Linked DNA regions of Homo sapiens: all the other regions are linked to region 1. Evidence: fine-mapped expression QTL. A gene starts in region 1. Each other region holds a variant in brackets. All regions are shown on one strand. Distances are from middle to middle. Region 1 holds the start of PON2 (paraoxonase 2). Region 2 holds the start of PON3 (paraoxonase 3). Region 3 overlaps PON2 (paraoxonase 2).

The links.
Region 2: its variant is fine-mapped to the expression of PON2 in unexposed skin (GTEx, PIP 0.95).
Region 3: its variant is fine-mapped to the expression of PON2 in whole blood (TOPMed, PIP above 0.99).

What each region holds. Positions count from the first base shown.
Region 1 is chr7:95,431,765-95,439,950 of GRCh38, forward strand. PON2 (paraoxonase 2) reads right to left here and starts at 3,264. Exons shown (of 9, transcript NM_000305.3): 1 at 3,114-3,264. The coding sequence starts at 3,187. RefSeq lists a silencer at 2,947-3,376 and an enhancer at 3,051-3,621.
Region 2 is chr7:95,392,565-95,400,750 of GRCh38, forward strand. It overlaps PON3 (paraoxonase 3), which reads right to left and starts at 3,811. Exons shown (of 9, transcript NM_000940.3): 1 at 3,713-3,811; 2 at 2,080-2,150. The coding sequence starts at 3,786. LOC107986822 (a long non-coding RNA gene) reads left to right here and starts at 3,908. Exons shown (of 2, transcript XR_007060439.1): 1 at 3,908-4,464. The variant T/C (reference allele first, on the strand shown) is at 3,868.
Region 3 is chr7:95,407,735-95,415,920 of GRCh38, forward strand. It overlaps PON2 (paraoxonase 2), which reads right to left. Exons shown (of 9, transcript NM_000305.3): 4 at 4,578-4,743; 5 at 3,919-4,045; 6 at 2,167-2,367. The region is part of intron 1 of LOC107986822 (a long non-coding RNA gene); the gene reads left to right. Among named protein-coding and RNA genes, the nearest start is that of PON3, 15 kb to the left of the region's middle. The variant CT/C (reference allele first, on the strand shown) is at 4,658.

The DNA of each region.
Region 1 (8,186 bases):
GACAGAAGGCACTCGAACATATGATAAAATACAGGGTACCCAGTGATATTTTAATTTGAGATAAACAATGAATGATATTTTAGTATAATTATGTCCCAAATTCCACGCTTAATGCTAAAAGTATGGTATAAGTATTTCATGCTTATACTAAAAAAAAAAAAAAAAATCCATGTGAAATTCAAAGTTAACTGGGTAGCCTACATTTTTCTTTGCTAAATCCAGCCACCCACCACCTACCCCAACATTCTCACGTCAGCCCATTTGGGGCTCCACATATCCAATAAAGTTACCATTTTATAAAGTCACTGCCCATTAAAGTGCATCACAGTCACGTAAAGAAAAGGTGCATCAAATTGTAAAGTAGGCCGAGGGTGGTGGCTCATGTGTATAATCCTACCACTTTGGGAGGCTGAGGCAGGAGCATCACTTGAGGCTGGGAGTTTGAGATTAGCCTGGGCAACAAAGTGAGACCCTGTCTCTGCAAGAAATAAAAATACTAGCTGGGCATGGTAGCATGCATCTGTAGTCCCAGCTACTCAGGAGGCTGAGGAGGGAGGACTGCTTGTGCCTAGGTGTTTGAGATTGCAGTGAGCTTTGATGTACCACTGTACTCTGGCTTGGGCGGCAGAGCAAGACCTTGTGTCAAAATAAAAAACAAAGAAAAACAAAAAACAAACAAACAAAAACCTGTAAATAAACTATCAGGCATTCTGTCAATAAGTTTTATTTACTTTTTCTTTTTTTTTTAGATTTGCAGCTATAACTTTAAAACCTTAAGATTAGTGAGAAGGGGGAATATTTGACTGTTGAGAAAACTTCCAACTTGCAGAAAAACTGGTGGCTTACACATTAGTGACAACATAATAAGCTTGTGAATTTTGGTGGTCTTGCCTTTGAAATGGAGAGCAGGACAGATCATATACAAAGTCATCCAACTCATGAATGTTCTGTAGAGCACAATGGGCATTACCTAACATGAAAATTAAGGTCAACATGTCCATTTCCTACCCATAAGCGTTCTTTCCTCAAATCTCACTCCCATCTCAGCCACCACACGCTTCCTCTTTGCACTGCTTTATCAGTAGATGAAACTACAACCATGGGACAGTGGAGCTGTGGCACAAACTCTGGTAGCACCTTTGACTTCTCCCTCATCCCTGGGGTTCCAGAGTTTGGGTCCCTGTTATCCTCTCTGACCTACTGCAATACCTTAACCAGTTACCCCATGTCTGCTCTCTATTCTAGTAGTTCTCGACCTTGACTGCTCATTAGAATTATCAGGAATGTTTTTAAAAATAAAAAATGCCACTGCTACTGTCAGCCACTGTTCTTACATTATGCACTTCCTTATTTATCTATTTACCTGGGAACCCTGAAGCCAGCTTGCCAAACAATACATTATTCCATATCACATTTTAATTATAACGAAAAATCTCTGGTAGGTAGACACCATAGTTTATAAATTACCAACTCAAATTTTGTTTTTTATTTATTTATTTATTTATTTATTCATTTTGTAGAGGTGGGATCTTGCTATGTTGCCCAGGCCTGTCACTAACTCCTGGGCTCAAGCAATCTTCTGGCTTAGGCCTCCAACAGTGCTGGGATTACAGGTGTGAGCTGTAGATTCTGATCCAGAACAGCTGAATCAGAATCTTTGGTGGTGCCACTCAGACACCAGCCCTCCAGGAGATTCTAATGTACAGAGAACCATTGCTCTCCTCCAATCCCCCCTTCCAGGCTTATCTCTATAAAACACAACTAGTTATATTAAGTTCTTGTTGAAAAGCAAAACCCACCAATATTTCCCTTTTGAAGCACTATTGGGCCTATGAAAGTGGGGCCCCATTTTTCAACTTATATTTAATGGCCTCAAAACCTATCCTTCCCACCACCCTACTATTCTCATCTCCTGACTTTATGCTCCCTTCAAATTGGCCCATTTGCTAGTCTTCCAACTTCCCACCTTAGCCCCTTTGCTCCTGCTGCACTATACATTTGGCATGGGCCCCTTCATGCTCATATGTGTTGCACCCACCCTTCAAGGTCAGGTCGAATGTCTCTTCCTCCCTCTAGAACTCCACCCTCAGGGGATGGAATCTTTCCTCTTTAAGCCTATGCGGTTCATTTGTGTCTGTCCTTAGAACATCCTAATTTATACATTTACTGTATTTTAATTCTCTCTTCCCCTGTATCAAACTCCATAAGGGTCGTACTCTACTATAGAAGCCTAAGAGAGAACATTACACATAGCAGGTGCTCAGTCTTTCTGGAACTCTTTTGCATGAGGCCTATAAAATTTTGGTTGAGGCAGGGCAGAACAGCTCACACCTGTAATCCCAGCACTGTGGGGAGGCCTAGGCTGGAGGATTGCTTGAGTGCAAGAGTTAGGGAACAGCCTGGGCAATACAGCAAGACCCCATCTCTACAAAAAATAAAATAAACAAAAAACAAACGTTGAGTTGGTAATTTATAAACGATGATGTCTACCTACCAGAGATTTTCATTAAAACTAAAATGCGAGATGGAATAGTGTCTGCGCTGTCTGGCATTCTGGCTTCAGGCTTCCCTGGTGAATAAATAGGAAGTAAGAACAGTAGCTGAATATTTCAAGTGTCTTTGATCTACAGCTGAAGAGTTTCTCAAACTATGCAGAAATGGGTGGAGAACAACTTTATTAAAGACGGGTCTGGTTTGGGCAACAAGGAGAAACAGCACCAATGACCTGAAATAAATCTTCATAGTTAAGGTTTCAATGCATGAGTAGTCATTTTGTTTTCAATTTAAACCACTAGTTTGGCCCTTGGGTAATTGCAAAGCATTCTCTTGTCAGCCTAAGCAGAAGAGAACTTTGTTAGCAGCAAGGGCTTATAAACTTTCAAGAAAGTGTCGCGATTCACTCCAAACTTTGCTAGTTTTTTCACTAGAAGCGGAGAGTCGGGGTGATGGGGGTTCAACTAGCTGGGGGAGGGACAGCATTCAAAAATTCTCCACCCCCGGCCGCAGGGCCAGGTCCCGCAGGAATCCCTCCCCCAGCCTGCGCCCTCCCCGCACCACGCGGCCACCCCGAGCCTGGGGACCGCCGAGGAGGGGCGCGCGGGAGTCCCACCTACCTGAGTGCCAGAAGCCTCTCGCCCAGGAGCGCCAGCGCGATCCCCAGCAAGCCCACAGCCACCAGCCGCCCCATGGCGCGGGAGCCGGGCGCGCTGCCTCGCTCCGGCCTGGCCAGCAGCTCCGTGGGCGGTGCCATCTTCCCGGCTCGATGGTGCCGGCCGCGCTCCGCCCCGTCCTCCGCCTAGGCCGAGTCCCTGCGTCGGGGCCGCGGAGGCTCCGCCCTGGGCCTGGCCCTGGTCTTTGTCCTCACAAACCTATTTCCCCAGATACCTTCGGGACGGCCCGGACACGCCTTACATTAGGCTCATGATGTGAAACTTTGAATTCCTTCACTTCCTTTTTCAAACAACCCACCCGAAACCCTCTAGCAGCCCGCATACCTTTCTCGTTTCCCTAGTCTTCAAACACATTTCTCACTCGCTATTCCAGTGAGAAACTTACATAGAAAGCAGCTTTTGGGGATGGGGGTCGGTGGCCAAGGGAGGGAAAGTAACGGGATGCGTCGTGTAAATATTTCACGTTGGAATCACTACTTTTTATAACAGGACGTAGTTGCGAATAAATAAACATCCTGTGCCTCGTAATACTTTTTTTTTTTTTTTTTAACAGGGTCTCGCTGTGTTGCCTAGGCTGGAGTACATTGGCACAATCATAGCTCACTGCAGTCTGGACCTCCCGGACTCAAGGGACCCTCCAGCCTCAGCCTCCTGAGTAGCTGGGACCGCAGGCACGTACCGTTACACCTAGCTAAGTGTGTGTAAGTTGTGTGTGTGTCTGTGTGTGTGTGTGTGGAGACCGAGTCTTGCTGTGTTGCCCAGGTTGGTCTCAAACTCCTGGACTCAAGCCATCCTCCTGCCTCAGCCTCCCAAAGTGCTAGAATTACAGGAATGAGCCACCATGCCCAGCCTCTATTAATACTTCCAGACTACAGACTTAAGGACTTAGACACGTCTTTTTCATCCAAACTCAAAGGGAAGAAGTGTAGTTTTTTTCTTTTCCGTTTTTACTCTAACAACCGTAACATGAAGGAATAATTTAAAATACAATTTTAAAAGTAAAATGAAATTTACCCATCAAGATTGATACCATTACAATAAATGAGTACATCTGAAATAAGCTTCTAATGGTTTTCGGTATTTAATTGCCACCCTACAATATGTAGGCAGAAATGGTCACACTTGACAATTTTCAACAAATATCAGTTTTATAAAGAACCAGTAAATAAAAGTGGATGCCAATTTCCCACCTGCCTCTCACCAAAAAAAAAAAAAAAAAAAAAAAGCACAAACACCTCTCTCCCTGTGTGTGTGTGTATCTCTGCTTCAGTCCTAAGGATATTGGATTATACTGGATGGTAGAAAGAGAAGTAAAAAGTTGTCCTTTGAAAGCCCATGAGGCATTACCTTTTTTGTGTCGTGGACCCTTCTGGCAGTGGTGAGCCTGTGGATAACTTCTTAGAATAATGTTTATAAATGCTTACAATAAAATGCATAAATTTTCTCTGTGCGGTTCATGAAAAAAAGAAAGAAGAAAAAAAAATTTTAAATAAATGAATAAAATGTATAGATTGCAAAGAAAATCAATTACATTGTAAGGAAAAAAAATAGCTGAGAGCAGTCTGAGCTTTGTGAGGTATGCAAAATTTATCAGGCCCAGAGCGACATGAGTATGGGACTTCAGTCACGCCCCAATACCCATGCCTGGGGACAGTTGTTTAAAGACATTTTGTTCCCGAGTAGCTGTCCCACCCATTATCTTCATATTCCTGGAATTTATGATACAAAGAACAAAGTATAACCAATCCACAGCTTATGTTATTTTAACGCAAGGAATTTAGGAACTGCCTCTTCCTTCCCCTTAAAAATCTATGTGTAACTGCTGCTAATCAGAGTGTATATTTAGGGAAACTTGAATCTATACTCCTGGGTTGCAGTACTCAAACTTGGCCCAAATAAACTCTCTACTTACATTAATTTTGCCTTAGCTTTAAAATTAAAGGTCAACAATTGAAATGTAATTGTTAAAATATCTAAAACATAATTTTTTGCTATAGTAATGTGGTAATGTAATGTGTGCAACATTATTTAACATATTAAATAACAAGATCTAGCAACATTCTTTTAAATAAAGAGGAGTGCAAATGTTCTTTCATGATACTGAAAACAACTATAATGAAATAATGAAAATAACTGTTATTTCCATTAGTAACAGTCACAAGTACTGCAAATGCTTCTGAGGTTTGTCTGCTAGTTTTGTAATTGAAGAAAATGCTAAATTCCATTTGAAATCAAGATTTTTTTTTTCTTATCCAAGGTCATTAATTCCTCTGAACTATCAATGGACCACTGGGTTAAGAACTCTGACATAGGCTAAGGCTATGACTGTTTAGAGAAGGGTGGAATCTCCTTTCTAGGACTATTTTTGGTGTCAATTATTGAGGAAGAGAAGAGCCTCAGATACAAAATCAGAATTTAGGCCTGGCAAGGTAGCTCTTGCCTATAATCTCAGCACTTTGAAAGGCCCAGGTGGGAGGATCACTTGAAGCGGGGAGTTCAAGACCATTGTGGGCAACATAGGGAGAACCCATCTCTACAAAAAAAAAATTAAAATTAACAAAAAAAAAAAATTAAAGAATCAGAATTTAGAAGAAAGACCTAAAGCAGAGGGCCTTGGACTATTGTCTGGGCTTCTCTCTTAATCTCTTAGGCCCCAAGGGAAGTACATACAACTATGCCTCATGGATTCTGGGTCAGGAGCCAGGCTACCGTGTCTTTCCACAAGTTCCGCAAAATGAGGAAACCACATAGATGGCAAATAAGAATATCCAAGTATATGCTATTCTCTGTCTATTTCCCTTTTGCTATTCCCAATTTTTTAAAAAGAAAAAAGTCATGTTCTTAATAGTCATGTTCTTCAACCTGGTTCCAGGTGACATTAAAGGGTTGGAGGTCTACATCTTTTAGGCTAGTCTCAGGATAGCAAAAACAACAACAACAACCAAAACCAGCTTTTGTGCTGACTTTCCTTTCTTCCCTGGCCCATGGTAGGCGTCACTAATTGATTTTGGCAAAGTGTCTCATCACACCCAGACTTGTCCTCACAATTTTTTAAAACAACAACGAAAGGGAAATAAGAATCCCTGAGCTAGGGAACAGATTTCAGTTCAGGATGAAACCTGTTTGCCATCTTGGTGCTGGGTGGTCAGGAGGAACAACACCTTGGGATTTAGCATGGAAGCATTTGTGATAATGAGCCAGGACTTTCAAGTCCACCAAAACCTACCTAAGCTCACCCTCAGAGAATCAAGAGAAATGGAAACCTTATTTTAACTTTATTAACATGACCAGTGAGTTCCCCCAATAATCTGTGTGAGGAATCTTCTACCCCCATATTCTTTCTCTTTCTGAATGTTGCGGTTGAAGCAACTTTTGCAGAAGTAGTATCCATCTTTACCCCCAGCCCCACCACCATGCTAGGGCTGGAATTGTCATTCCTCACATGGGGATGGAGATGAGACGTATTTTCTAATTTGGAAATCAGAAACCATTGTAAGAATGTTATAGTGGTTGTTACATTGTATAGTATAGTTTAGCTGTCTTTTGAGATAACTAGGATGTATAGGCCACACCAAGAACATAACCCCTGGTTTACGTTTGTTTCCTGGGGAAAGTGGTTTCTGACTACCAAATAACCAAGTTACTCAATACAAAACAAACTTGTTCTGGAACTTGCTTGTGTGCTGGCAACTCCTTATACTTGGTATGAAACAGTATTTCTCAAATAATGACTTCTGACTTATTTAGTGGTTATTAAGTGGTTTTTTAAGCAAAATTTCAGAAATAATAATACCTTTTATCAGTGCTTCTCAAACTATGTGCAGTGAAGGACAGGTTTTTCTTGGCCTTTGTAAAATGCAATGAAAATGACTTACTGGAAGAGGAAGTAAAAAAACCAGACATACAAAATACAAGCCCAAATCTTTTATTATTTGGTTCAACAGACATAAAATTACTTTGTCAAATTTCTGTAACAGTTTCTAAATGCTTACTTTCAATTTTTTATACTTAACTAGCCATGGACCAGAAACAAAGAGTTCACAGACTGAAATGGTCCCTGGAGCACACTGCCTTTCATAATTGTACTTTTAACTCTTTAAAGTTCTTTGCAGTGTATTCTTAATTGTAACGCTCACAGTAATTTGTGAAATAGGTGACTCGTGATTATTGTAATTTTATATAATATGTGACAGGGAGTTCGGCCCTCCATATTCCTTTTATCCCTTCTTCTCCTTACTTCTGTTTTAAAAAGGGAACAAAAATGCATTGAAGGGATGCTATCAAAGATGGTTATTATCAGCAAAAGAAAGATTTGCCTTGTAGATGCCTCACTCCGTGGCTTCTCAAAGAGTAAAGGAAACCTCCCCACAGCCAGGCCGTTTTCTGAGAATTCCAACATATTAAAAAGTGAAGAAATGGCATAACAGAAACATAAAGTTTTTTTTTAATATTTATGTTCAACAAATTAACATCTTCAAATAATAGGTTGAATGATATTAACTTGTTTGTAGAGGTCAAATTCATAAACAGAGATAAAATACAATGTAATGTGCTAGTTACAAAATAATTATGCAATTCATAAAAAATATTTATTCCTGGTTTGCTATAGGAAGAGTGGTCCAGTCATGGAACTCAAGTTTAAAATGAATGAGTTTTTTCAGTTGTGTCACTGTATCTTTGTGATGTATGAATAAATGAATTGTGAGATAATGTTGAAAGTCAACATTTAGGGCTCTTTGTAAACTTCACGTCTAGGCCAGTTGGCTTGCCTGTCCCCATGAGACCCAAGCCTATTTATTTGGAGAGCTATAGGCTTTGCTGCCTCTCTTCCAGGAGCCATTGAACCCTGGGGAAGAGGACAGAGAGGAAGAAAACACTGGGAGAAAAGAGGGGAGCAGGAAGAGAAAGATACAAAAACTCCCCAACCTCCATGTGAGGCTGACTTTGGATGGGCTGAACTCTATGGAAAAAGTAAAGACATGTTACATCCTCTTCTAGGAAATGCATGCACGTTTT
Region 2 (8,186 bases), 39 kb before region 1:
TCAAATTAAATCACTCTGATATCCTATTCCACTAAGTTGATGGAAAATCCAATCTGAGTCATTACTGGGTTTGTCTGTTAGGGTTATGAAATCATTTTAAGTGGTGGGTTCTAAACCTAAGCAGAATGTTTTGGAAAGGCCATCTGGCATTCATTCTACACTACGTATCATCGAATTATTCATTGCCAAAGTTACTGGTCCCTTTAATTTAGACAATTCTGCTACTTCCATGTAATGCATTGACACAAGGTCTTTACCTTAGCTGGAACACAGGGTCCAGCGTCCCTAAAGATACCTTGCAACCATTCCTTCTGAGGTCCTGCTCCTCTCCCAGAATGCTGTCAGCCAGTGGGGTAAGGATCCCCATTATTCAAAGATATCCACATATTCATATCCCTTCTCCAACAGAATCCCTTGAAGGGGCTCAGGTTTTTAAAAACAATTCAGGAAAGGCGTTTTCTTTGGTTTCTTCTGCTTTCCAGCTGCTAGCACAAACCACCTCTAAGACTAGGGAGTGCAAGGTTCAGATTACTTTATTTTTTAGAAATTGAGAGGCAAGAAAAGGCAGAAAACTCAAATCAAAAGGGTACTTTTTCTGTATTTTTAAATATAGCAATAAAATAGAAAATCATATCCCAAAATAAGCTATCTCATCACATTCTAATAAATAAGTCACAGTTCTTGGCCCTAGGGAGTTTACAATCTGATAGTGAAAGAGAGAACACTGCTAGCTATAATACAAGGCATGTGGCAGGTGTCATAAGTGAATCGGAGCTTCAGAGTGCTGTGAGAGTTCAGAGGAAGGAGATGAATTTTGCAGCTGATTTTAGTAAGCAGAGACAGAGGAATCAGTAAGTTTGGAGGGAATTTCATAAGCAAAGGTGAGAAGGTGAAAGAACATATTCCCAGAACAGGGAACACAATCTAGCCTGATTTTATTTTATTTTTCTGTTAGCAATGTCAGGAAGAATTGGAGCTGTGGAGCCCAAATAAGCAGGTGTGGCATTAACTAGTAGGTGAGATTAGCCCATGTCTCACGTAGAAGCATGAGGGACAAGCGGGGAACAATGGTTCCTGGATTTTGAACTGAATCTTTTGAGAATGGGGGTACCATACATAGGAAAAGTCTAGAAGCAGAGCTGGTTGTGGGTGGGAGGATGAGGGAGAAAACGACAGAAATGTAAAATAGATTTCAGCTTAGGGAGAGTTTGAGCTGGAGCTGCCCTTTAACTGACTAAAAAAGAAGGGCTGCAGTTTGAAAGGTTAGGGACTGGGCCATGGATTTTTTATGAATTTTTTTAAAAGAAGGTAGGTAGGCTGTGAGGTTCCTTCGTTTATTATTTTTTTTAAGACAAAGTCTCGCTCTGTCGCCAGGCTGGAGTACAGTGGCGCGATCTCAGCTCACTGCAACCTCCGATGACTCCCTGGTTCAAGTGATTCTCCTGCCTCAGCCTTCCGAGTAGCTGGGATTACAGGCACACGCCGCCAACATGCCCGGCTAATTGTTATATTTTTAGTAGAGATGGGGTTTCACCATGTTGGCCAGGATGGTCTCGATCTCCTGACCTCATGATCCGCCCCCCTCGGCCTCCCAAGTGCTGGGATTACAGGTGTGAGCCACTGCGCCCAGCCTGCTGTGAGGTTCTTGAGGGGAGGGGCTGAGTCATATTATTTGAAAAAAAATAACACTTGAAGCCAGGAATGACAATAAGGAAAGGGAGGGAGGAAGGAAAGAAGAAAGAAGCAAAAAAAGGAAAGGTAACAGAGGACAAGGAGGAGAGTGAAATACCACAGATGGGAAAGGAGAAGCATTCAGTGAGGGGAAAACCAGGGAGTGGTCAATGACATTCTTTAGGTAATGTGGAGAGATGTCAGTAAGGAAATGTGCTGAGAAAAACCCACAAAGAATGTCATTTAGTACACCCCTGAAGACCTTGCATGGGGCAGAGTGGACGGGGCAGATGTCCCACTGGGAGGGCTTAAGTAGTGACAGGTAATTAAATGAGCTGGTAGGGCTCAGTCAGGTGGATGACGACCAAGAAGCTGTGCTGGCTCCTCTTGGTACTGTCACATACATACCAAGTTCCTCAATAAGGTGGCAGTTTTCAGGTTCTACTGGCTCCACTTCTCGAGAGGCATTCACCCTTTCTCTGTAGAAGATAAAACCCAACCCTGGAAGTCAAGGCACAGCATTCAAAATGTATGTTTAAATGTGGACTTCAATCATCTTCGTGTTGGTTAACTATCTTTATCATAATTTATGAATGACATAACAAGTAAGTAGGTACTTCCTTTCATGTTTATTTACATAATGTAGACATTATGTGGGTATTTTACCTATATCAGCTAACCTTACCCAGTTATTGCTGAAAAACTGTATAATATGATTCAACATGGAAAATTCTGCTGCCCAAATAAAAGACACTATTTAATAGTATGAGTAATTGAACAATATTATTAATTTAAATGCACGAAATAGCCCTAATTTTCTAAAGTATCGTCTGTTATAAATCTGCACTTAATCCCCTACAGTCTTGCCCTTTGAACTTTTCCTTCCAAACTGCTTTCCCAAAATTCAACAGGGTCTCCTAATAGTCAAACTCTATCACTTTTGCTTTAATTTTTAAATTTTATGCTGACTTACTCCGCAAGTATGTAAATTCATTAAACCAACCACAATTTAAACAATTGGCCGATTTATTTTTCAACACAATTTTCTTGTTTCCAGAGTGAAAAGGAATGTTTCCACATTCTTCTAATATCAGGGATAATTTAAAATTTTTATTAAAGTATATTCAGAAAGACTCAATACTTATCTTACAGTCATTTATTTAAAAAAATACCCTTAGATCTACTTTATTATTATTACTATTATTTTATGATTCTCCATGTGGTTGCACTGGGAGCAAATGTAACAATAAAACTCTCAAACTGGAAGTATTACTAATAGGCACCAGGCACCTCAACAGATTCTAGACGTGATCCTCTAAGAAGACCAGCTTCAACTAAGAGAAATACATAAACACTCAAAGACAACTGAAAGCAAGCAGAGGCTTTCGATCCACTCATGAATGTGTATTATCACTTAAAGGTTCTTCTTTCTAGCCCAGTATTGACTTTTCCTGAGACATTTCTAGGCTGGCTATCACCATTGTATCTTCCACTTCAAAAGGTCAAATGCCTACAAAATGCCAGTTACCGCCTGCAGGTTTCAGCTGGTTTGCCCTGCTGTCTGGCCAGCTCTTTAAATCTAGGATAGGTTCCATAACCCAGTACTTCTGCATGGTTAGCCAGACCTGGGCAATGTCTCAGTCAGCCGTAAACATCCAACTGGTAGCCTGATCCTCTCTCCCAAGTCCGGCGTTTCCAATGGACGTCCTTTTTTCCCAAGCAGAATGTTGAGGGCGAGCTGGGAAAGGGGTCATCACGTTCAGAAAGTAAAAGGGGGTCATGACCTTCAGAAAGCAAAGTGGGGGATCATAACCTTCAAAAAATAAATGGGACTAATTCGGCTCGGCAGTCTTTGGAAACGCAAGTAGCTCACTTTCCCCATAAGCGAGTCTCAAGGGGCGGTTTGCTGGGTGAGATGGAGGAGTGAGGTTCCAAAGCTGCTCTTTCCTACCCGCTAGGAAGGGGGCGCCAGGCAGCCCCTGACCTCACTTGGAAGAGGAGAGAAAGAGAGTCGAAGACGCCCTGTCAAGATGCCACTCACCTAAACGCCAGGAACATCTCCCCGACTAAGGACAGGCCGACCCCCAGCAGGACCAGCGCCACGAGCTTCCCCATGGTCTCGGGGTGCCCAGCGGCGACTGCGCGGCGCCGAGAGCTCTCGGGGGCGCGGCGGGCGGTTCCTGCCTCGCGTACGGA[T/C]TGGGGCCCGCTCGGCCCCGCCCGCACACGCCTCCTACTTACCTGAGCGGCCCGGGTGCCGCAGCAGGGCGCTGACGAGTCCCGCCGAGCCCCGCCGCCCGGGTTCAAGGCCGCCTTCACGCCCACGATTCCTTGTTTTTTGGGCAGAGGTCAAGGCTCAACGGAGAGGGAGCCCGGGACCGAGTTGTGGTGGGAGTTTGCTCCTAACACCCGCGAAATCCTACCTCAATTCCTCAGATGGCCTGAGGGAGAAACCGGAGGGCCCGGGAATGGCGGGGAGCTCCAGTTCAGAGCCGGAACTCCGGACTTCTGCAAGGCCAGACGTGAGGCGACACTGAATTGCTCCCGAGACGCGGGAAGGGCGAAGGCAATCGAAGCGAAGAGCTTTAACTCATCTTCTCCAGGATTTGGGGCACGGGAACCTGTCTCCTGACCTTCGTGCCTTACCTCGGAGTGTGCTGCCCAGACGGACTTGTGAATAGCTGCGTCTGTCCCCATAGTTAACGGGAGAAGGAAACACCAGGAGAAAAGAAGGAAAAGACAGGAAACGGGAAGAGGAGCAGAGGCGAGGAAGGGGAAGGTCATTTCCTTGGCAGGGTAGGCCCTCTTTCTTCTAGGTCTTGAGTTCCTGCCAGGCAAGAAATGCTCTTTCCCCTCTCCTGATGAACACCAGGTTGGAGGGGGAGGAACTGAAGATGCGGGAAGACTTGGGGAGTTCGGGCAAAGTAGCACATTCAAGCATGATCTATTTTTATTTACGGACAGAAAGAAATATTAGTTCTGTTAGGTTCCACCGAGTAAACTATTTGTTGAGAGAGCAAGATTTGCCAATCCTGGGGGTATTAAGGAAAGAAAAGGTGGTCCCTGACCTATGGGATACATGATTCTAGTATGAATACGTAATTACAGGATGAATAATGAAGCCCACCGCTTATGCAGTACTGACTGTGTGCTTTGCCTGTGCTGACACCTATGTTAACGCATTTAATTATCAACACAATCTCTGGAGTGTGGGTAGCCTTACCCCAATTTTACAGGTGAGACCTGCAGCACAGATTGCTTATGTGGCTTGCTGTAGGTCAGGCAGCTGTCAAGCAGCAGACTCCAAAATCTGGGCCCTTAACTGAGCTGCCTCTACCATGCTGCCTCTAGAAAATCTATGGAAGAAGGGTTGTATTAAAAGGACAGTGTAACGTCTTGAATTGTATAGATTAGAGTTCTTGTTAAGATGACTAATGTTAAAAGAGTGCAAGCAGAGGAGGAATCGAAGTCAGGAGGGCTCACAGAGCTGAGGGGCCTGGGGTGTGATGTAGACATGCATGCAGGGTTTGGGAGTCAGGCTGCCTGGGTTTGGATCCAGCCTAGATAAAGTACTCAGCTTTATTGAGCTACAGATTCCTCTTCTGTAAAAGAACGTCCACCTCATAGGTAGCTTAAAATTAAATGTGATAATGAGTGTCAAGTGCTCTGCACTGTGCTTGATACGTTTTATGAAGTCAGTAAAGATTAACCACTAATTAATTCTGAACTTTGCTTGAGATTGTAGGCTCCTGTGGGAAGGACTCCATCGCATTGATCACTGGGTTTTCCCGTGCCATCCATAGAACTTTGTGCTTAATAATGACTCAATAAATATGATTAGATGGATGGATGTAAAATATGGACTTGGGAGAAAGAAAAATTAGAAGAATAAAAAATAAATGGAATGAATAATGAAATAATAATAGTCATATTATTATTTCACTCAGCGTTTGCATGCCTTGTCACATTACTTCTTATTAACCTTACCTACAAAGAAGTAAAGTGAATTGCTTGCTGCAAGTTTGATGGGACTAAAAAGAAGGAAAGTGAGGCTTTGAGGCTTAGAGAGGTAAAGTAATAATTCACTTAAGGTTACATAACTAAGTGTCAGTGCCTCCATCTGGACTCAGATCAGGTGACTCTAGAGCTCATGTTCCTTATCACTGTGTTTGCAGCATAGCATGAAGAAGGGGGTAAAGAAAGAAGCGTATTCTTGGGCAATTGATTGAAGTTCTGTGTTAGCTATAATTTGTTTAAAAATTCTTCACTTTAGGCAGAGGAGTCTCTGTGTGTGTGTGTGCATGTGTGTGTGTGTGTGTGTGTGTGTGTGTATACATTAACTTTAAACCCTAGAAGTGGTTAGTTTTTATTCGAATACCATAATCAGTAATTCAAATCCCCAGCATGGTAAATTAGCATTAAAGAATTCCAAACTTTGGAGGCCACTGTATCGAGTGTCACCATCTAAATCTGCTCTTGGCAATAGGCCAAATTGACTTGGTCAAGAGGCCACAGGTACATCAGTATTGTAAAAGGGGTTTGTTGACTTTGAAAGAGCAGGACAGATAAATTCAAAAGGCCTAAATTCAAGATCCAATTCCATTTGTAGTTGGCCCTTTAATCTTTTGAAATCACTTATCACCACCTCTGGACCCTTCTTTCCTTATATGTATAGTGGGGCTTTCAAAGAGCTAATGTAGACCAAATTCAATGCTATACGTTTAAACAGTAAGTAACACAATACTATATATAGATCTAGGGAGTCCCACACCATTGATAATCAAAATGCCATTAAGGGGGATGCAGAATATACATGTGGTATAATTCTAAGGTATAAAATTAGGGGAATTACATATTATCCACATATGTGTGTGTGTGTGTGTGTGTGTGTGTATATATATATATATATATAAACAATCTAGACATAAACTGAAGAGTAGTTACTTTGAGAGCAGAAGATTGGGGTCGTGGAGAGTGGGGAGGTCAGTGAGTATGGAAGGAGACTTTGCTTTTACTGTACGACCCTCTGTAATGTTTAAAATTTTCAAACTTTATATCTTGATCATGTTTACAATCGCTACATTTTTAATTTAAAAAGATTGTTTCTATCAGTGAATCTTGCCAAGAAAAAGAGGTGGCGATAGAGAAAAAGAGCAACAAATCAAAAGAGATTATGATTATATTGCAATAAAGCTGTTTTTTAAAAAGAGGATATGGATTTTAGAACATTAGGAAACATTGTCCTAAGCCATAGAAACCACTGTTTAAAACCTGGGTACGACTACATGGCATTAATGAGTCTAGTGCTGCTCAGAAGAGAGAAATGCTAGAGGACCAGATATTTGTATTATTTTAAGAAATGACTTCTATTATTTAGAAAATTTATTATTTTAAATTTATACTTATTTAAGTATTAAATATTTAGGTATATCTGAATTTAAATAAAATTCTCAATTTCATTCTGAAGATGCACTTAATAATGAAGTCAGGTAGTGAAAGTCTGATACCTTGTTTGGTGACTTCCTGCAACTCACCATGGGGAAGGTTCCCCCACTCAGGACTTCAGGTGCAACCTGTGGTGTGCTAGGAATCATCTGCGCTGAGTGTATTTAGCAGGATGAGCACCAGGGTTCCAGCAGGCTCACATTTCACTATGTAAGCACCAAGTGAATGGGGGGATCCTTGAGGGGCCACACTTTGCCAGGAAGGTTCTTTCCAGATTTATCTTCCACTTTAACTGTCTTCAGGGGATTTTTCATCAATATCTGGTAGCCCCTCAGCGACTCTAGTTTGGAACACATCTCAAGGTAGATTCAACATATTACATGAACTTGTCAGATTGTATGACAAGGAGAAGGAGTTAATTAAGTGGAGAAAGGGTGGTGAGGTTCACAGAAAGAGGTCGGGGTATCCGCAAGTAGGGGAATTGGAACAGAAATAGTCCAGTATGGATACAGCAGTGGTTCTCAAACTTCAGCAGGCCTAAGAATCACCTGGAGGGCTCCTTAAAAGAGAGATTGCTGAGTCCTAGACCCAGAGTTTGAGATTTGTTAGATTTGGGGTGGGGCTTGAGAATTTGCATCTCTAACAAGTTTGCAGGTGATGCTGATGCTGCTGGCCCAGGGACCATGCTTTGAGAATCACTGAGCTTAAAGATTTGGGAAGAAGATGGTGAGAATTGAATCTGGAGAGGAAGGCAGATTGTAGGCCAAGTTAAGAAACCTGAATTATATTCTAAGGGGCATTGGGAAGCCACTGGAAGTAACATGTTTTGGCAGGTGTTTTAGAAACATTGCTACACAATGATGAGAGTGGATTATGGAGCAGGTGGAGCACTTACCCTTCCTGGAGGCTAGGAGATAGTTAGATGCCTTTCTGGGTGAGATATGTGAGGGTGATTGGAGAAGGTGAGGAGATTGTTTCTCAAAGTTCTTAGAATTGTATGGATTTGAGAAATGTTTAGGTGGAGGGACTGGCAATTGTTTGGATATGAGCAAAGGGGTGGTGAGGGAGAGGGA
Region 3 (8,186 bases), 24 kb before region 1:
GTTGGAACAAATCTCACTGGTTTGTACACATTAAACACCTAATAAGCATGAGAAATAGTTCAGGTCTAGAAATAGCTAACTTCCGAGGACACAGAAAGGCTCACCAAGGAAGGGGCATCTGCAGTGGCTGTGTAAAGAGAGATGAGATTTGAGATGAGGACGGAGGAGGCACTTCCCAGGCAGAAGCAAGCACAAGAGCAGAATCACAGGAGCAAGAAGAGGAAGGAATGTTTAAAACAATGAGTTCTTTGTCTAAAGCATAGAAAGCATGGAAATAGTAGAAAAGGGAGGTTGGAGGTGGCCTGTTAAACAAAGTCCAACCCTTTACCCTGCCTTGATTTGATAAGCAATTGGATTCCACTGAAATCTTAGAATAATAAAGTGGCAACAAATGGTCAGTTCTGTTCCACAATTCCTGAGCATTTGCTTTGTGCCTGGCACTGTACTGGCATAAGGAGTCAAAGGTGAGGAAGACAGAGTTCCCTCTTTGGGGAGCCCTTCAAGGCTAATAGAGATAGACAGACAAAATTGGCAAGAGTGAAAAAAATCCAAGTAGACAGAAAACAAATTGGAAGAAAGTCTCATATGCTAGTCAGAGAGGATGACAACCTAAATTAGGCAGGTCTCACTCAAAGGGAAAGGAGTTTGGGGGTAGAGGAAGGAGGCACAGGTAGAACCAACAGGACCTGCCTACAGGCTGGATAGGAATGGTGAAAGAGGAGTAAAAGCTGATTCTCCCTTTTCATTATTGTTATTTTTTTGTTAGCTTGGGTGATTGGAAAGTTTGACTCTCATAATGGAAATATAAGAGTGAAAAACAGATTTGGCTGCAGAGGTTGGATCAGGTCAGTTAGAGACAATTTAAATTAAATGATTCTACATTCTTTTTCTATAGTCAACAAGAAAGGAGGAGAAATTGGATTACAAAAATAAGGGCATTTAGTTGTCAAGGAGTGCCAAATTTATTTTATGTTGTATTTGTAGTAGTTTAAATTTTTCAGTGTGCTGAGGCAGTAGATAAGAAAGCTATCAAGAATTTAATATCTTCTCTTATAGGTTGTGGTTGTGCATATAAAAATAATGAGATAATTCTGGAGGACAATTTGGCAATATCTATTAAAGTTAACATTTAAAAGAATCACACTGTTTGAGCAAATAGTTCTATTTCTAGGGGTCTGTTCTACAGAAAAGTAGCTCATAGAACCATTTAGCCAGTGCCCTGGGTGGGATTTGAACCCAGGCCTGTATGAGTCCAAAATCTGCAAGTTTAACCATTATGTTATAATACTCTCTTAGAGCCAGGTGTGGTGGCATATGCCTGTAATCCCAGCACTTCGGGAGGCTGAGGTGGGCGGATCACCTGAGGTTGGAGGTTCAAGACTAGCCTGACCAACATGGAGAAACCTCATCTCTACTAAAAATACAAAATTAGCCAAGCATGGTGGCGCATGCCTATAATCCCAGCTACTTGGGAGGCTGAGGCAGGAGAATCACTTGAACCCAGGAGGCGGAGGTTGAGGTGAGCTGAGATCATGCCATTGCACTCCAGCCTGGGCGACGGAGTGAGACTCCATCTCCAAAAAACAAAACAAAAAAAAAACACTCTCCTAGGGACTTTTTCTTTAAAAAAAATACTTGTTTAAAATTCCATGGTAAATAAGAAGTATAAAATATTTTTTATGTAGAACTCCCCACCCCTATACACATATCCATCAATAGAGAATTGGTTAAATTAGTTTAAGATCATCCTTATAATGGAATAATGTATAGCCAATAAAAATAATACATTTATTTAAAAGGAAATACCTGATACTTCAATATGTATGCATCAGTATGATCACACTTTAAAATTTATATTTATAAAATTAAATTTGACAATGATGTATTCCAAACTTTATATATTATATATAAATACATATATATTACTGTATTATATAGTTTACTTAAATATGGTATTGTATTTGCATATAAATACATGTGACTAAGTATATGTAAATATATATACAAAACATATATAATTATATATATAGTGTATCTATATATTATATGTATAATATACCATAAATGTCAAGAAAACTATTTTCACATTGACAAAGAAAGCAAAGTAAAGAATTTGGCCAGCACCACAACTGAAGAAAAATGAAGATATTCTATAAGGGGCCATACTTATCATCAGGTGAAATATTGATCCCATTTGCTGAATCAAATCCTTCTGCTACCACTTTAACTTCATTTGGACTGTAGTAAACAACATTTGCCCAGTGTAAGTTCAAGTATGTTTCTAAATACTTTAAGAAAGGATCAGAGAAGTAGTGGTCATTTGTGGCATAGAAATGTGCCGGTCCAACAGCTGTGATGTCATTCACACTGAAAAAGAAAAATAGCATGTGAGAGGAAACAAAAGGCCTGTTGGTCTCCATATTAAATATTAAGTACTCATAAGATTTATGCAACATGTGCTTTAAATTTTTGGTAAGAGGAAAAGACGAGCTAAAAATCACGACTATAGTCATATACAATATACTATAATATTGTTGCCAGAGAACAATTTTGTATGGTACCAGGTAATCTGAACACAGGTCATTTAGCAATTATGGCAGGATTACCATAAGAGAAGAAAGAACTTAGTGCCATCAGGGCATGTTTTTTGACAGCAAGAAATGTAGGGTTTAACAATTATACGTAAGGACAGAGCTGTCCACAGTACAGAGCTGGAGAGAGCCTGATTGGCTGGTGAGCTGGTTAGGCAGTCAGTAACATTTACCTAGCTTCCATTTACTCAGTTCCTGGATTTTTCTAATTTCCCTGGCTTAGTTATTAGTCAAACTAAGGTTGACTGTTCAATTTCTACCTGCTTCACAAAGCTGACATGCCGAGAATGAACAGGCACTCAATAAACACTTGCAGAGAGATGGATGATAAAATTGCCATAGTACAATGCTTCAGGTGAGAGATTTATATGCTAAAAACAATTTCATTTTAAGACCAGTTAGGTGAGGGTGTTATTAAATTTAAATTCCAATTACTCTATGCAAAAATTTCTGAAAGAGCTGCTTTATTCTTTGCTAAATGAAAAATATAGAGCTACAGGGAAGGTAGGTCTCATTTTTCTGAAAGAGCACCATAATGCTTGGATGGTATTTATGCTCCTATTTTTTTTTATCAAGTGCATTTTTGGAAGGAATGATTGGAAGTTACATGCTTATGCCCTAGATAGGCATAGATAGGCCCTAGATAGGCAATATTTTTAATTTCATTAGAAATGAAATTTCATTAGAAATTAAAAATATTCATCAAGTTTAAACTAAAAGAAGCAGTAGGCTAATACACACTGAACTGGGGGTGGGGGTACACATGATTCTCTCTTAGCCACATTTTCAACCAGCTTTATGTTCTTGAAGTGTAATGACTCACTCTCAACTTGAGTGGCTCTAATTCTGTGGGATTACTAGCATGCAACCATCACTAACCCTATGAAAGCGATTGGTATAAAGTCCCATGCAAAGCATACAAACCCAATAAAAAACAGGCCATTCTTCCTTGGCAAGACACTCATCTGGGTGATGAGTCATCTAAGATGGAGGGTGACAGCAGGAAAAAATGTTAGGGTTTGCCTTCTACCCTCAAGATGGGCCTGAAGAGTATCACCCTGTAGTCGGGCACTTCATCATTTCTCAAAGGAGTCCGCATAGAACAGTGAATAGTATGAGTGACATCAACTTTCATATGCCATGCTTGCCCTGGTTTATAAGGAAACTATACACACACATTTATAAATAAGGAAATATAAGCTCTTTAGCTCTTACATATTAGCTAATATATACATTAGCGCTTATAAAAGATGACAGGACAACCCACCATAGGGATTGTTTGCAAATGCTGGGGATAAATTAGAGAAGGAACAAAATGAGGAAGTACCTTGGAAGAAGCTCATGTTTGACTGTTTTCAGATGCAACAGAGAATTTTCTGCTTCTTCAAATTTAAAAATTTCCACTGTATTCTTGAATTCTGGGTGGTTTACAACAAAGAGATAAACTGTGTCATCTAAAGAATTGAAAGAACAGAGTTAATTTACAAGACATAACTACGGGACCTCTGGGCAGGCACTGACATTTAAATACCACAGGCAAGGAAAGGTTGAATGTATAAGCTGTTAGACGACCTAACAGATCATTCTCTGTCTTTCCTATTGCTGTCCGTCTGGTGTTATTTCTGATCATTGGCTCCCTGACCTTTAAGAAAGTGTTTCCTACTCCATATACAGAATTCATGCATAATCTGTTTCTACTTTAATTCAAAAATACAGTTCTTTTTTAAATGTGATGATCGTAGGTATATGAAAAGATTATGAAATCTAAACATTCTTTCAGGTGTTACCTGTTAGGAATTTCAAAATGTAGCATAACTTACTGCCAGCTGAAGAGGCAAATGAACAAGTTCTTTGTAATGAAGAATACAGAAATCACTCATGAGTTAATTGTTCTTCTCTTCCTAGAAATATGATCCAAATCTATTTTTCACAGTCATTTGTGAACCATCACACGTTACTAAATGTTGGTAGCCCATTGGCTCTTACCGTTGTCTATGAAAGTGCTGATGCCATGTGGATTGAATGAGGCCAAATCAAACCCACGACTGATTCTTAATTCCCGTGCC[CT/C]TGGTTTTTCTTCTTTTAGATCCATCATTAGTATTCCTCCAGGCTTATCTGGTGCAAAGCTGTGGAGTCCTGGGAATTTTAGACCCTTTCCAAAACGGTGAAAAATGTTAAATACAAAAGCTTAAGTATTTTTATGGACTAACATGGGAACTGTACATGAAGGATAAATAGAGATTGTGGTTAAAGTAGTGGCATAAAGCCACAAAAACTCAAAAAACAGAGAAAAGATAACAGAAAAAATAATAACGGGGAGGTGGAATACTGAAAGCCTGAAAATAACTGAAAAGAAGATCAGGGATTTATTCTCTTCAGAGAGTAATCAGAAGGTTGGTGGACTAGGTGATTCCAGGGAGAGCTGAGGGTGGAGAAAAGTGACATCTACATACTGACTGTGGAAATTTGTTCACTGCTAGATCCCAGTGCCTGGAACAGTGCCTGGCATACAGTCCATCCTTCTCCCACTGATTCAAAATATCACCTTTATCATGTGCTAGATCTCTGACATTTACATATTGGTCTATTTAGGGACTCTCTGTTTTGTTATTTTAATGTCTCATGTCTATTCCTGTGCCAATATAACACTTTTTAAATTACTACAGCTTTAGGTCAGGCCTGGTGGCTCATGCCTATAATTCCAGCACTTTGGGAGGCTGACGTGGGAGGACTGCTTGAGGCCAGCAGTTTGAGACCAGCCTGGGCAACATAGCAAGACTCTGTCTCTACAAAAAAAAAAAAAAAAAAAAAAAAAAAAATTAGCTGAGTGTTATGGTGAGCACTTGTAGTCCTAGCTGCTCGGAAGGCTGAGGTGGAAGGACCTCTTGAGCGCAGGAGTTTAGGAGTTCAGGCTGCAGTGAGCTATGATTGCACTACTGCACATCAGCCTGGGCAATTGAGCCAGTCCCTGCTTCTCTAATGACAGTTTTGTCTTTTTCTTTTCTATCTCACATTTCTTTTTCTCGTTTTACTGAATTACTAAGAACTCTAGTAGATTACTGATGGTTGTGGTGTTGGGTATTTTCTTCCTGTTCTGAGCATTAATGCAAATGCAGCCAATGCTTCACCATCAAGAATGATGTTTGCTGTAGTTTTGTGGGAATTTTCCTTATCTTTCTAGTTTGCTTGGAACTTTAGGAATGAGTATTGAATTTTATTAAATGCTTTTTGGTACTCACTGAGATGATATAGGTCTTTTCTCTTTTAAATCAGTTAATAAATTACCTATCAGTCTATCTAAAATGGTGATTCATCATTACATTCTTAAGGTAAAGCCTTCTTGGTGATGTTAAATTTTATGTGAATGCACTACCTAATTCAGTTTACTAATACGATGCAGTCATATTTACACAAATTTAGGCACACAATAAAAAAGTCTTACTTTATGTATAAAATTGGACATAAGAGGAAATCTCTCCAATTAAAAAAGATTATCTACAATTGTATATTTTCATGGAGGGCAAGCCTGGTAAGTAGAACAAACTGGAATTATGCTATTGTTACATGGCAGTGCCACTTCAGTTAATCCCTATTCTTTATGAATGTCCCCAAAACAAAAGCATGATTTACATGCAAAGGAAGCACTATCAGATGGTGATAACTAGTCATGGTTATGTTCGCACTCCTTATTTATTTAAGTATTTTTTCTCTTTTTAAAAATTTATTTTTAATTATGATAAAATACATACAACATTCATCACTTTCACCATTTTTAAGTGTACAGTTCAGTGGTGTTAAGCACACTCACATTGTTTACATTTTTTATATTTTATTCTATGTCATCCAATTCTTCATGAAGTGTGACATTAGTTTTGAGGTGACCCTCAACCCATAACTGTAAAATAGGTTGGGTTAGATGAGCTAAAATGCTAGGAAGAAGAATGAACAACCTCCACAATGTAGGACCTCTTTATTTAGAAGAGAGTACACTCTAGGTTTTATTAGAGACAATGCCAAGTAAATGAAAAACAGCAGCAAACTGGGAATGTTTCTAAATTTTAAAAAAAGTCAAATGAGCAAAGGAGGGTAACAGAAAAAAAGCAGAAAAAGTTCTATTGATATGGCTATAAGATCTTTGTAACTATAACATGCCCCCAAGCTAAAATGGCTGTAGATTTATGTGTTTGGAGACCTCATCCCTCCTACTTCAGATTTATTACTATGGGGGCTGGAGAGAAATCTTGAAATAGGTGAATTCTAGATTATAAAAATCTCCAAGAACACATCCTTGCAAAACAACAACAAAAAACACAAATAAACAAATAAAAAAATCAATGCAACTGCCTTCTACTTTATTCAGAATGTTTGCATCTTTACTTATGAATATTTTAGACTAGTGGTCCCAGTGGTTTTTCCTAAGCCACACATGTGCAAGCATGTGCTCCTAAACAAACCCAGAGTCCTACTATAAATATCACTTTATTCATTCTGTGTAGGCAATTAAATAAAACATTCCTTTTAAAACCTTATTTTAAAAACTAAATACATATACTGGTGTTTCTGCTAAAGCCCACAGTATCTCTTTATTGCCTCAGTGGTAATAACCAGCTGCTCACTGTCTTTCACATAAAAACCATCAGGAACCTGAAGAGTGTTCTAATTCTCATTCTACTCCAACCTGAGTTCTCTCACCTTTCTCATAAGTCTAACAACTATTTTATTAGTGTGGTGACTCCCTTCTAAGTATCTCCCAGTATTTCACATCCCTCTTGAGTCTCAGAGCCTGAAAATAATGGATGTTGAGAGGAAATGGAATAATTACAGTCAGGTGTCAGAGTTGGTTACTTCTTCCTCCAGAAAAACTGGACCTATGAAGATGCCAAGAACTCCTATGTCTGCCCAAGCCAGGGAGGTAGGTGGTCAGAACCTCCTCATCTGTCCCCTTATCTGGATTTCCAATTAGAATGGACATTGTTACAAGCTAGTTTCAACAATATTCACAACAATATTCACAAGCCAATTGTTTTTAAAGTCTTTCTATTGTATACCCAGAAAGGATATTGTTTTTCAGCTTACAAGAATCAAGGCAAAATGAAGGGTGTAAATAAACTCAATGACTTTCCACTTATGATTGGCTATTCAGGGGAAAAAAGAAAGAAAGCAAAAGGGCAAGGTTGGTATAATATTTGAAAATAAATAATAATGGCAAGAATATTTGCTTCAAGTTGAATAGTAATAGAAAGATGAGTAGATGCTGTATTTAAAATAGTATAATGTTAGTATTGAGTATCCACAGTAAGACCTCAAATATCCCTCTTAATAGTGCACATTTAAAACACAGATTGCGCTGGGCGTGGTGGCTCACTCCCGTAATGCCAGCACTTTGGGAGGCTGAGGCAGGCGATCACCTGAGGTCAGGTGTTTGAGACCAGCCTGGCCAACACGGCGAAACCCCATCTCTACTAAAAATACAAAAATTAGCCGGGCATGGTGGCGGGCGCCTGTAATCCCAGCTACTCGGGAGGCTGAGGCAAAAGAATTGCTTGAACCCGGGAGGCGGAGGTTGCAGTAAGCTGAGATCATGCCACTGCACTC